Linked DNA regions of Homo sapiens: region 1 is linked to region 2. Evidence: fine-mapped QTL for protein levels in blood plasma. A gene starts in region 2. The other region holds a variant in brackets. All regions are shown on one strand. Distances are from middle to middle.

Evidence for each region. A credible set is the group of variants that fine-mapping cannot tell apart. PIP is the chance, under the fine-mapping model, that this variant and not a neighbour inherited with it causes the effect. Protein levels are from the aptamer-based SomaScan assay of Sun 2018.
Region 1: its variant is the best candidate, but not a certain one, in a credible set for the plasma level of the CCL16 protein (Sun 2018, PIP 0.87).

Annotation. Positions count from the first base shown.
Region 1 is chr17:35,533,330-35,536,235 of GRCh38, reverse strand. All of the region lies in intron 1 of SLFN12L (schlafen family member 12 like), which reads left to right. Among named protein-coding and RNA genes, the nearest start is that of SLFN12L, 2.9 kb to the left of the region's middle. The variant C/T (reference allele first, on the strand shown) is at 1,616.
Region 2 is chr17:35,980,252-35,983,105 of GRCh38, reverse strand. It overlaps CCL16 (C-C motif chemokine ligand 16), which reads left to right and starts at 1,609. Exons shown (of 3, transcript NM_004590.4): 1 at 1,609-1,761. The coding sequence starts at 1,686. RefSeq lists a silencer at 799-1,094 and an enhancer at 799-1,094.

The DNA.
Region 1 (2,906 bases), 450 kb after region 2:
CAGGGAGATTATTCCAGAATGGTTATTCTTACCAGAGTAATGAAAACTCTCTTGTCTTCCAAGAGGCCTAATAATTTGGGAGACCAGTTTGCACAATGATTAAGAGTCTAGATTTTTGGCCGGATGTGGTTGCTCATGCCTGTAATCCCAGCACTTTGGGAGACCAAGGTGGGAAGATCGCTTGAGCCCAGAAGTTTGAGAACAGCCTGGATAACATAGCAAGACCCCATCTCTACAAAACAAACAAACAAACAAACAAACAAACAAACAAACTAGCCAGGGCCGGGTGTGGTGGCTCACGCCTGTAATCCCAGCACTTTGGGAGGCCGAGGAAGGTGGATCATTTGAGGTCAGGAGTTCAAGACCAGCCTGGCCAACATGGTAAAACCCTGTCTCTACTAAAAATACAAAAATTACCTGGGAGTGGTGGTGCGTGCCTGTCATTCCAGCTACTCAGGAGGCTGAGGTGGAAAGATCACTTGAACCCAGGAGGTGGAGGGTGCGGTTAGCTGAGATCCTGCCACTGCCTTCGAGCCTTGGCGGCAGAGCAAGAATCCATCTCAAAAACAAAAACAAAAAAAGCTAGCCAGGCATGGTGGCGTACACCTGTAGTCCCAGCTACTTGGGAGGCTGAGGTGGGAGGACTGCTTGAGTTCGGGTGGTGAAGGCTGCAGTGAGCTATGACTGCACCACTGCACTCCAGCCTGGATGACAGAGCAAGACCCTGTTGCTTTAAAAAAAAAAAAAGGCTGGGTGCGGTGCTGTAATCCCAGCACTTTGGGAGCCTGAGGTGGGCGGATCACCTGAGGTCGGGAGTTCAAGACCAGCCTGAACAACGTGGAGAAACCCCGTCACTACTAAAAATAAAAAAAAAAAAATTAGCTAGGCAAGGTGGCACATGTCTGTAATCCCAGCTACTAGGGAGGCTGAGGCAGGAGAATTGCTTGAACCTGGGAGGTGGAGGTTGTGGTGAGCCGAGATCACGCCATTGCACTCCAGCCTGGGCAACAAGAGTGAAACTCCATCTAAAAAAAAAAAAAAAAAAGGAGAAAGAGAGAGTCTAGGTTTTGATTAGAAACACTAGCATTTGGAATCAAATACTCCTGGATTTGAGCCTCACCCATATGACTCTGAATATGTCCCCCAACCTCAGTTTCCTCATTGGTAAAATAAAGATAATAGTATTTGTTGTGAGAAAGCAATGAGATAATGTATGTAAAGTTTTTGGTACAGTTCCTGGCTCAATAAATGTTAGCTCTTTCAGCTCATGAGGAGCACCACAAGCATTAACCTTCCTACTATGCCCTTTGTTTTTATTTGCTCTTGATTGATTAGCTCTTCCTGTATCAGAACTCTTGATCCCAGGCCTTGATAGAGATTTCTGCTTTTGGCTGCTTAAGCTTTGGCATATATCCAGGTTCTCTCTCCACATTTGGATCCTTTCTCCCTTTCAATGTTTGGCTAAGCTATGGTTTTTAATCTGGGGTGAGAAGCAGTATCTCATAAACAGCTCCCGCCAGTGACTGGGCCCATTCTGGTTCTTATCCATTGGATTGAGATGGAAGAGGAGCAATTGAAATAATAGACATGAATTCCCATCAATTGCCAGGTCCCT[C/T]GGCTTACTTCTAAATCTCTCTCAACTCTGCCGGCTTAATTCTAAATCTCTCTCAACTCTGCCTACTTCTCCACTGTCCCCACCTTAGTCCACATCACCATCTGTTCTCATTTGGGCTGCTGAAACCATATCCTGAAAGGTCTTTTCCATGACTGCTCTAACCTGCTTCAGCTAGAAAGGACTTTGAAAAATGTTCATCTGATGCTGTGTCTTCCTGCTTAACAACCTCCAATGGCTTCCCATTACTTTTTGTTTTTTTTGAGACGGAGTCTTGCTCTGTTGCCAGGCTGGAGTGCAGTGGGACGATCTCAGCTCACTGCAACCTCCGCTTCCCGGGTTCAAGAGATTCTCCTGCCTCAGCCTCCCGAGTAGCTGGGACTGCAGGCATGTGCCACCATGCCCGGCTAATTTTTTGTATTTTTAGTAGAGATGGGGTTTCACCGTGTTAGCCAGGATGGTCTCCATCTCTTGACCTCATGATCTGCCCACCAGGGCCTCCCAAAGTGCTGGGATCACAGGCATGAGACACCGTGCCCAGGCCTTTCTTTTGAGACAGAGTCTCCTTCTGTTGCCCAGCCTGGAGTGCAGTGGCATGATTTTGACTCACTGCAAACTTTGCCTCCCAGGTTAAAGCAATTCTCGTGCCTCAGCCTCCCAAGTAGCTGGGACTACAGGTGCAGCCTGGTTAATTTTTGTATTTTTAGTAGAGATGAGGTTTCACTATGTTGGCCAGGCTGGTCTCGAACTCCTGACCTCAGGTGATCTGCCCGCCTCGGCCTCCCAAAGTGCTGGGATTACAGGCGTGAGCTATGGTGTCTGGCCAGCTTCCCATTACTCTTAGGGTAAAGCCAGGAACCCTTAAAGTGGCTTACCAGACAATGCACAGCTGGACACCTGAGCATGGTTCCAACCTCATCTCCTGCCTCTATCCTTCCAGCTCTGTGCTGTCAGTCTTTTGAACTTGACATACTCCTTCTTACTTCTGTCTAGAAAATTCTTCCCCCCCTTCTTCACCAAATTAACTCTTCACCTCATTTGCATTCTTCAGATCTTAACTCAAATGTTACTTTTTCTGGAAATCCTTCTCTGAACCCATTCCCTCTCCAACTGCCAGGTGAGGGCAGTGTTTCCATTCTAAGCTCCCCTGACATTCTAAACTTTTGTCCATAGGAGTCACTTGTTTACTGTCAACCTCCTCAAGAACAGGGACCAGGTTTGTTTTGTTCACCACTGTCTTTTCTGGATTTAGCACAGTGCTAGGCAAATAATAGATTTCCAATAAATATTTGTT
Region 2 (2,854 bases):
CAGGTGTTCAGGAAATGGATGGATGGATGGATGGATGAAGGAAGGGAAGAATGTGTGGATGGAAGGATGAAGGGAAGGAGGAATGGATGGAGGGAGGGAAGCAGGGAGGGATGAAGGGAGGGAGGAAGGGAGGAAGGGAGGGAGGAAGGGAGGGAGGGATGGATGGATGGATGGAGAGAAAGAGGGAGGGAGGGATAGAGGGACAGATGGAATAAGACAGAAATCAAGAGGAGGACTATGCTCCAAGAATAAGCTCTCAAACCTATCTTCAGGGCCCAAGGAGGAGCTCTGTGTACTTGGAATAAGAGCTTGCCCAGAGTAGGGATTATGACCACCCTTTCCTGGCCTCCAGCCTTCCACAGATAAGGAAGGGCTTGTGGGCCACATTAAGGGCCATATGGGGGCCTGCATGCCAAAGTCACAACCAGGCTTCTCAGGCCTTGTCACCTCCATAAACAGAGGTCAAGAGGATGCCCCACATACGTACCCTCCCTGCCCTCACAAAAAGCCACAGCTTCACCACCAGGTGAAGCCTTGAACCCACCAGGAGTAACTGCATTATACGGTTTACCTATCTATGAGCAGTCATGCCAAGCAGAAAGCCCCATAAGGATCTGCACAGTCCCTGTTTCTGCCCCTGCCTCCCACTGCCCTCAACACCTGAAACACATCACCTATGCCTCTAAAGCTTGCTGTCCATCAACAGCAAAATCCCTTATATCTTTGATCTCTTCTCTAAATGCAGCTTTCAACATGGAAAAGGGTCCTGAGGCACCTGAAGAGAGAGGAAGCTGTGGGACAGGTCCAGCCAGAGCCCAGGCCAGAGGGGCAGAAGCTGGAGTCCTGGAGCACAGACGCAGGTTGTCAGGTGCACAGAGTTGGAGGGTCCCCTGCTGGTCATGGTTGGCCATGGGGGCACCCAGGAGGGATCAGCGAGCTGGCTACACCTAAAAATCAGTCCAAAGTCCGAGGTCCAAAGAGATAAATAAAAACATTGACAAATAAGTCAAACGGTCCAGCAACAAATGGGGACCCAAGGATCAGGCACATTGTTTTTTTTTTTTTTTGGAGTATTAGCATACACTGTGACAGGAAAGAGTGTGAGCTCAATCATGTGGCCTTGGACTGGGAGAGGGCATTTCCTTCTCAGAGGCAACTAAGCCCTACCTTTGCCTCAGTCTGGGCTCTGTAATCCTGCTTTGTGCTCATCTCCCCAAGACTGATCACCTGGGGGAAGCTGGGGTGGTTCAACCCTGCCTGCCCTTCCCCAACATACAGATGGTGGCAGGTAACATGGTGAAATCAAACAGATCTGGTTTTTCATCCGCCTATCCACCCAGGTGACCTTGGACAATTTATTTAGCCTCTAGGCCTCAGTAGTCCCAGGGAAGTAATAATCGCTATTCACTATTTTAAGGATTATATAAGATAGGGCATGTAAGGTAGCTGACACACATTCGCCCATTTCTTCACGTGAATTCAGATTCTACTGAATTCAGCTCTGCACCAAGTCCCATCCTCTGCTGCCCTCTGTTTCAGCAAACACTGAGGCCTGTTGTTTCTCCTCCTCTACCGGCTCTGATGCGGTCAAGGTCCAGAGAGCTGAGTAGTTGGCAAGCGGACCACCAGCAACAGACAACATCTTCATTCGGCTCTCCCTGAAGCTGTACTGCCTCGCTGAGAGGATGAAGGTCTCCGAGGCTGCCCTGTCTCTCCTTGTCCTCATCCTTATCATTACTTCGGCTTCTCGCAGCCAGCCAAGTGAGTCCACTTGTCTCTGTAGGGCAGGAACGAGAAAGGGGGATGGAGCAGCTGGCAGGGAGGTAGTGCCAAGGGCGCTGTCGGGTCTCTGGCCTCATAAGACCCTGTGGGCTCTCCCCACCTTCATGCATAGCTTCTGACCTCCAATTCTCCCCTTTGTAAGTAGAGCTGGGGTTGGTCCGGATCTTTCTGGGGTAAGTAGTTCCAGGAAACTGGGTCACCATTTCCTCAGGAGTCCCAAGCGTGGTGAGCAGGAATGATCATTCAGGAGGAGAGGCCAAGAAAGCAGCAGAAAATGCAACAAGAAGTGCATGCAATGAAAGGGAGGGGGAGGCACGCGGATGAGAAAGAAAAGTGGCAGGTGCCCTGGAAGAATGAGTGGCGAGAGGAAGGAAGGTTCAAACAATCATGTGGGTCTAAGTCCAGGAATTGGGAGTCTGAACCGAGAGAGCCCTTCCTCAACATGGCTGGCACAGGTTGCTGGGACTATCAGACAACCAAAATGAGTCCCAGTGGAATGGCTGCTTGGGAATCTATGGTCCCCTTCTCCATCCCCCAGCCTATGACTAAATAAAATCTGCAGAAAAGAGGAAAGGGGTTGAAAGGTTTTGGAGCTGTGGGGAAAGGGAGAATTGGGGCCTATGGAGGAGGGGGTTTGTTTTGCCCCTCCGTATCTCCTCCCTCTATCATTGTTTACGAGGACCTGGTGACGGGGGTGGGGAGGACAAAGACGTGTACCTGCCCTAGGCTGCCCCAGCCATTCTTTTCGCTTTTGTTTTTTTGTTTGTTTGCTTGTTGTGTTTTGTTTTGTTTTGTTTTGTTTGTGATGGAGTTTCGCTCTTGTTGCCCAGGTTGGAGCGCAGTGTCGCGATCTCGGCTCACCACAACCTCCGCCTCCCGAGTTCAAGTGATTCTCCTGCCTCAGCCTCCTGAGTAGCTGGGATCACAGGCACACACCACCACGCCCAGCTAATTTTTGTATTTTTAGTAGAGACGGGGTTTCACCATGTTGGTCAGGCTGGTCTCAAACTCCTGACCTCGTGATCTGCCCACCTCGGCCTCCCAAAGTGCTAGGATTACAGGTATGAGCCAC